2 linked regions of the Homo sapiens genome follow. The protein of the gene in region 1 interacts with the protein of each later gene in a pairwise test. Each region holds a gene or a part of one and is shown on either strand. Other genes may lie near its edges.

The links. The genes of interacting proteins can lie anywhere in the genome.
Region 2: the proteins of LCE1C (region 1) and MACO1 interact in binary tests that used the Homo sapiens proteins (3 or more experiments, as listed by UniProt).

Annotation. Positions count from the first base shown.
Region 1 is NC_000001.11:152,804,537-152,808,292, reverse strand, and holds LCE1C (late cornified envelope protein 1C), read left to right. Parts: upstream 1-1,641; 5' UTR 1,642-1,692; intron 1,693-2,794; 5' UTR 2,795-2,814; coding exon 2,815-3,171; 3' UTR 3,172-3,461; downstream 3,462-3,756. UniProt on the Homo sapiens protein: Precursors of the cornified envelope of the stratum corneum.
Region 2 is NC_000001.11:25,433,760-25,437,415, forward strand, and holds part of MACO1 (macoilin), read left to right. Parts: intron 1-3,656. UniProt on the Homo sapiens protein: Plays a role in the regulation of neuronal activity.

The sequences.
Region 1 (3,756 bases):
CATATTGTTAGCATTAAAATGGTACCAAATTCAATAAATTTCAAATGCTATTGAAATCTAACACCAAACATAAGGAAACAATCCTCATGATGTTACATCATATTGCTACCTTATTAACCCAATCCATGTCAGATTAATTGACAGTTTGGGTGCTACCCTTTGTGGTATCAGAGTCATGGACAGAATAGCTTCTAATCCTCATCATCCTTGGAATGAATGGGCTGGGCTTCTGGATCAGAACTGCCAATGTAAGCTGAGTAATCAATATCTTGACTACTCTATTATTAAATACATTCTTTGGAACAACATGAGCCATAGCCAGGTAATTCAGTGGCAGACTTCTGCAGGGTGATAAGGCTAGTATACTGTAATGTAAATGTCTCAGAGTGAGAATTCCAATGATGATGGCTTAAGTCATACACAAAGTAAAGATGATGCTAATAGTAATCAATTCATTTTTAAATTGCTTACCTATGGAGTCCACCTCTGTTGTAGAAACTGTTGAGGGGTACATAAATATAAGAACAAAGCTGCAGAATCAAGGATAGTTTACTGTAGTCATATTTGAAAATTAAGACTCATAAAGAAGTTACAGTTGAATGGCACTGTTTTAGAAATGCATAGGTCACGGAATAAAGCCTGGATGTTGAAGAAGGAGCGTTATCCAAATGAATATAAATTGTTCTATCATAATGACATATGAATGTGTATGTTCACTCCAGCACTATTCACAATAGCAAAGACATGGAATCAACCCAAATACCCATCAATGGTAGACTAGATAAAGAAAATGTGGTACACATATACCATGGAATAGTATGCAGCCATAAAAAAGAATAAGATCATGTCCTTTGAAGAAACATGGATGGAGCTGGAGGCTATTATCTCTCCTTAGAAAGCAGCTATAATTTAAAAATATTAATGCATTGGCATTTGTTTAGAGAAAATGACATGTTATAAGCTCTCCACCAGAAACTTCCTTTGCATTATTTCATTGACTCTCAGCCATCCCTGGACAATTGTTTTTATATTATCTCTATTACAGAGTTGACAAACTGAGAACAAGAACGATGAGGTATTAATGCTTTTCATAAGGTCATGCAGGTAATAAGTGGCAGAATCAGGTTTCTCTCTATGTCTGACTCTTTAACCAGTTACCTAATGGCTTTAATACAGAAGCACACGCACACACACACACACACACACACACACACTCTCTCTCTCTCTCTCACACTCACACACACACACACACACAACTATAAGATAGTTGAGGGTTGGAGGATTCTATGAAACTTGAGTTAAGCCAGGTTGCCCAGAGCCACAGAGGTAAGATTTGGGAGTTAACAAAACAGAGAACTCAAGCTCCAAGACTAAACAGATTAGGTATTCTCCACGGAGAACAACACAGGAAATGATGGTAGGGATTTTCCCACTCCATTTCTATTTCTAAGTGGCCATAGTCCAAGCTGGGAGCAGCTTTTCTGAGCCCCATGGAGGAAGGCAAGTGAGGAGCTGCCAGTCACCACCCACCTCAGAACCCATGTGGGTGTCAGAAGGCAGGTCCTCTCATGCCCAGGCCCTGTCTCACAGCTGGAGGCAGAGCCCAGGCCAGGATAAAAGGGCTCTGGGCCTGAGCACTCCATCCACTCACCTCCCGAGGTGCTGAAGGACCCTGTGCTGCCTGTGACCCCGGTAAGTGTTCTTTGAGAATAGTTGCTGGGGCTTCCACAGAGTGTTGCTCAGCCCTAGGCAGGAGGGGAGGCTGGGCAGGACCTTGAGGGCTGAGATCCATCTGGATAGAAGTCAAGACCTCAGAAAGATTGAAGGAGGATGTGCTCAGGAGGCAGGGAGAGGGCCAACTGGTAACACAAATAAGAATTAGATGTCTCTGTCTTTGTGCTTCAGCTAGTTGAGTTTTAAGGACAGAGGGAGTTGAAGCCCAGGCAAATAGACTCTGCTAGAACAACTTCAAATAGGACACTTACTTTTCAGAGCAAAACTGTGACACTCCTTGCAAATTTGAGCTGGAGATAGTAGTTCTCAATCAGTGGAGTAGAGATAATTAATGGATCTTTTAGGGCTTTTTGAAACTCACTTATCTCTAGATTCAAATTGGAATTGAGAATCTCTTAAAGTAGTTAGACATAGCAAGCTGAGGATCACTGTGCCAACATGTTACTGTGAGGCCGTTGCGTGATGAATATGGCAGTGCACCAGCCTAGAGCCAGGGCACCTGAGTTCAGATCCCCTCTATGCACCAAAAATACTGTTCTCCAGCATCTTCCTTAACAAAGGGAGCCTGTGAGACCAGCCTGTCTCCAAAACCATTTACAATTGTACATGCGCAGGTTTTTACAAGACAAAGTCTCCTAGGAAGTTACTCCAAGAGATAATCCTTCATTATCTTTTTCCAAGAAAATGTTTATATCCCCAGGTTTCCACACTGGACAGTTTCAGGGTTTTATTTGACACAATGAGAAAAACTGCTTCCTTTAATTTACTAAATGTTTAATCTTGACAGATATTTTTTCATATGGCTTACTGCCTCAGTTTCCTTCTTTGTAAAAGATATAGTAATTCTTGACTGTCTTAAGATGAAATTGTGAACTCAAAAGATACAGTGTGAGAGCATTTGCCAAACTACAAGAAACAACAAAATTTTCAGTGATTAATGATTTACCATGACATTTGAACAGTTCATCAAAATAAAGGAAATAGAAACAATGTGGAAAGGACAAGAATAGGCAGGGGTGGCCTCTGCCTAGGTCTGACTTGCTGTTTGACTCTCTTTCAGCTCCTGAATCCGCCACCAAGATGTCCTGCCAGCAGAGCCAGCAGCAGTGCCAGCCCCCTCCCAAGTGCACCCCCAAGTGCCCTCCCAAGTGCCCCACCCCAAAGTGTCCCCCAAAGTGTCCCCCTAAGTGCCCTCCTGTCTCTTCCTGCTGCAGTGTCAGCTCCGGAGGCTGCTGTGGCTCCAGCTCTGGGGGCAGCTGTGGCTCCAGCTCTGGGGGATGCTGCAGTTCTGGGGGAGGTGGCTGCTGCCTGAGCCACCACAGGCGCCGTAGGTCCCACTGCCACAGACCCCAGAGCTCTGGCTGCTGCAGCCAGCCCTCGGGGGGCTCCAGCTGCTGTGGCGGGGGGAGTGGCCAGCACTCTGGAGGCTGCTGCTGAAGTGGACCCTGAGCCTAGAAGAGCAGAATCCAGGACCGCAAACTGCCAAGGACATCCCCCTTCTCCTACTAGGCCTGCCTGAGAGGCTCACAGGTCCAAGGGAAAGCTCTGAACTTGCCAAGAGCATATCTTTTCCCTGGAGTCCAGAAACTCAGATCCTCTCCTGGATCTCCATTCACTGGCCTTGGACCTCACCTTTGTGGCTACCCTCCCACGCTCTGTCTAAGCCCCTAGCTTACTCAATGTCATTTGCAGCGTGCATCTGCTGATTAAAGGACTAAAACAAGGAATCTGCTCAGTGTCTTGTTCTATGAGGACCCTATTCTCCTTGAGTGGCTCTTGTTCTCTTCACCTTGTCCTCTGCAGTTGGTGGCCTTGGAACCTCAGGGGACAGTGGGGCACTCTGGAGTGAATTGGGGTTAATGGGGGCAGGAGTGGGAAGGGACCATTGCTCCCAACTCTGTCTGTCCTATGTCAACTGGCCTGAAGCAGCATTGCTTCTGACCAAGTCTGAACTGTCTCTTATAAACATAGCTTCTTTGTTTCTGGTCCCTTTCAAGGGCTTGACCAGTCTCTCCAAGCTTC
Region 2 (3,656 bases), about 130 Mb from region 1:
CTTCAAATGAGTTTTGAGGACTAAAGGAGATATGTACAGTTTGTGAAATGCTTTATAAATCCTAGTGTAGTTTACAGATACTATTTACCATGTTGTTGCTATCACAGTTTAACGTGTGGTTAATTTTTTAAGGAGGCAGGAAATACTGTAAGATTTGGTGCAACTGTAAACAAAAGTTGAGTAGCCAAAACAAAGGGTCAGTTGCTGTTTGGTCTTGCTTTAAAAAATCCTGTTGTGGACTCACTTTTAAATCATGGGCTGCAGTCCAACAACTGTTACTGAGGTGACTGTCAAATGATATCATTTATTGTGAGTATCATGGCTGTCTTGGAATTCTGTTTCGGGGTGAGATGCAAGGAAAATTAATTTTAGACATTATGTTAATGTAATCTGCATTTATACATATAAAACATCATTTGAAAAGTGAAACATGCTATAGAAATATTTTAGTCCAGTTAATAATTAAAAATAGGAGAAAGGAAATAGGAATAGTGATCTTTTCATCTTACTAGGGGCTAAAGTTCGATGTAGTTTTAAAAAAATCTGACCCAGCCCAGAGCCTGACAGAGTCGACATTCAGTGTTCAATAAATGTTGAGTGAGTAAATTAATAAATGAATATAAGCTAGTCCATTTCATTCATGAAGTGCCTACGTTGTTCAGGGAATTGCGGAGGATACAGGATAACACATGGCTCATTGTCTTCAAGGAGTTTACAGTCTAGTAGGCCGTAGTAATACCATCTTAAATTTGTACAGTGGTTTAGAGTTTCCAAAGAACTTTAAGTTCTGTTCAAGTAAAAATATTTCTGTTGTGCTAAATTTTAGCTTACTGTTTTAGTGGTTCATCTGACACATTAACAGCTGTATTTTGCTCTGTGCTATTTTATGATAAAGTAGACAGTTGCCACTATATGAGGGAGTCTTTTCTATCTCAAATGAGATAGATATGAAAGTACTTTAAAAATTATGAACATAAGTTATTAAGTACCTAACTCTTATATTTCTAAGGTCCTTTGGTTTTCTGGGCTGGGTTCTCTCCTTGTGTCTGCCTAGACACATGTGCACCAGACACTCCCGATAGTAATATCTCATTGCAGGCAGTGATTTTCCAGGTGAGGTGAGGTTAGGGTACTATGTAGTTTTTAAAAGCCTTAAGGGGATTCTGTATGGTTTACCCCTACCTCTCACCCTGCCATACTTTCCACTCCCTTCCCTCAGAGAATTACTGACTTTATAATATAAAAATGAGGAGATAAGATGTGGTAAGTAGAAGAAGGAGGCAGAAACATTTATGTTTAAAGTATACATATATTCCAAATCGCTACAGTTAAATGGTTATTTATGCAAGTAAATATAATACGAATTTTAAGTAAGGTATATGTTTTAAGCTTCTGGGAATGATTTTATATCTGTGTTACTGGTGGCTGAAGGAAGTACCCTTTCACTGTGTATTTAAGACTGCTTCCTGTCTTCATGTACTGGATTCTGCTTGTAGTGCTGTGTGAAGCTTAGGCAGTGCAGTATTGTACCTGACTGTCATATTTTTGCAGCTTAATGCCTTAAAACTAGGACTAAGAACTCAGCACTGGTGTATATGTTATTATTTCCCATTTTTATTTCAGAGAAAAATTCTCTGGTCCTTGGGGCTCCTCAAAAGTGACTTTTTAAAGTGATTAAATTTTGCATTCTTCTCAACTTCCCAATTTCCTTTTTCAGACCCTTGTCTACATCTGATCTCCAGAGGTTTCATTTGACTGCTTTTTCTGCCTCCTTAATGATGTTTTCTAAGCCTAGTTTTAGACTCCTTTGGGCTATGCTTATTAAAGTCACTGCAGGCTGTCATGACCCTTGGCTGCCTTGATTGTACATGTGTTCTGCAACTGAAACCCCAGATACCTGTGTTGCAATCTCATAGCCTAAAAGCATTTTGGTAATCTTGGTAGGCTTTAACTTTAACAATCCTGGACCTGGCACGAAAGTGATAGATTCTGTATTGTTTTAGAGGAGTGTTGGGGAAGGAGAAATTGAAATGTTTTCACTAACCTGTGCAGTGAAGTGTTTATTAGCTAAACTCTTCTATTTGTGGTTTTCACAAAATACACTTTAAAAATCGGCCACACTGGGATGAAAAAGCACTTTCCTCCAACTTTCATTATGATTCTTCCTGTCTGAGCAGTCTTGGCAGTTTAGTTTCATTAGGTGTTTTGAAAATCCCTTTAAATTGCTGCTGGGTTGAGGAGGGGAACAGGAGAGAACGTGATTCACTTCACATTATTTGCTTAAAAGCTTCCTGTTTTATCATTGATAGTCTCCTTTTTCTTCACATCGATTCCTCATGGCCTCTCTTGAACCTCACTAGATTTAGAGATTGATCTTAATGGTAGGTTTAACAAATAATTATTTACATTTTCTTACTAGTTATATGCTTGTATATATCTCATGGACCCAGTCCATGTTCTGTAAGCATTTATGTTCCTAGAATCTTTTTCTTTGGCCATTTCTCCCAGATCTCCCCACTGATACTGTTAACCCTTTGGGGTTTTATGTATATAAAGTGCACTTTGTTTTATCTGTTTCTAGGCTACCATCTTGTGGAGTTTGGAGGGCAAGTAGAAATTTCACAAACATAGTTAAGTGAAATACTGTAATTAGGTTACTTTTCTTCATAAAATTTAGTGTGCTCTTCAGATATACTGATTAGTTTATCCCCAGGCTTACTAGATTTGGGCATAATTATTTTACTTGGCTCTTGCTCAAGAATTAAGTCCAGAAGAAAAAGAAGTTGGCTGTCCAGCAAGCTGCATAAGTAGGATGGTACATACAACAGTAGATACACATATCCTTGTTAGACTTTTTCCACTGTGGATTTCTTCAGATGCTTAAGTAGTGACTTTTCAAAGCCTCTCACCTTGCATCCTGGCAATGGAAGCTTGAAAAAAGTTAATCAACTTTTAGAGAATATTGAGGCTCTGTATCTTTAATTTGACATTTAACCGACATCAAATTGTCTCAGCTGATGAGCCTTCCAAGGCACTTGTCTTCCCTGGCCTTTGAAGACAGTCATAGTACTGACCTTGATTGCTTTATATTTTTTTCTCTGCTGCCTTTAAGGATGATATGCCCACTTTGAGTCATGGGATTGTGGCACCAAAAATAATGTATCCCTCACCCCATCTCCTCTGTTGCCTTCTCTTTTTCAGAGCTTTTGCATTTAGTGATTAAAATGGTGTGACTACTCCACTTTCATATATCTGTTCATATCACTGATGAGTTTGAGCTGTTTAGGACCGATCTCCCACTCAGCACAGAGGAGTGGCTAGAAATAATCTCATTCTGTTTTTGAATCATATTGTTACGTTGTTCATCTTCAAAACACTTTTTTTTTTTTTTTTGAGACAGGGTCTCATTCTGTCGCCCAGGCTGGAGTCCAGCAGCGAGATCACAGCTCACTGTATCCTTCATCTCCTGGGTTCAAGAGATCCTTACACTTCAGCTGACCGAGTAGCTGGGACCAAAGGCATATACTACCATGCCTGGCTTTTTTTTTTTTTTTTTTTTTTTGCGTTTTTGCGTTTTTATAAAGATGGAGTCTCGCCGTGTTGTATAGGCTGGTCTTGAACTCCTGGGCTCAAGTGAGCCACTCACCTTGACCTCT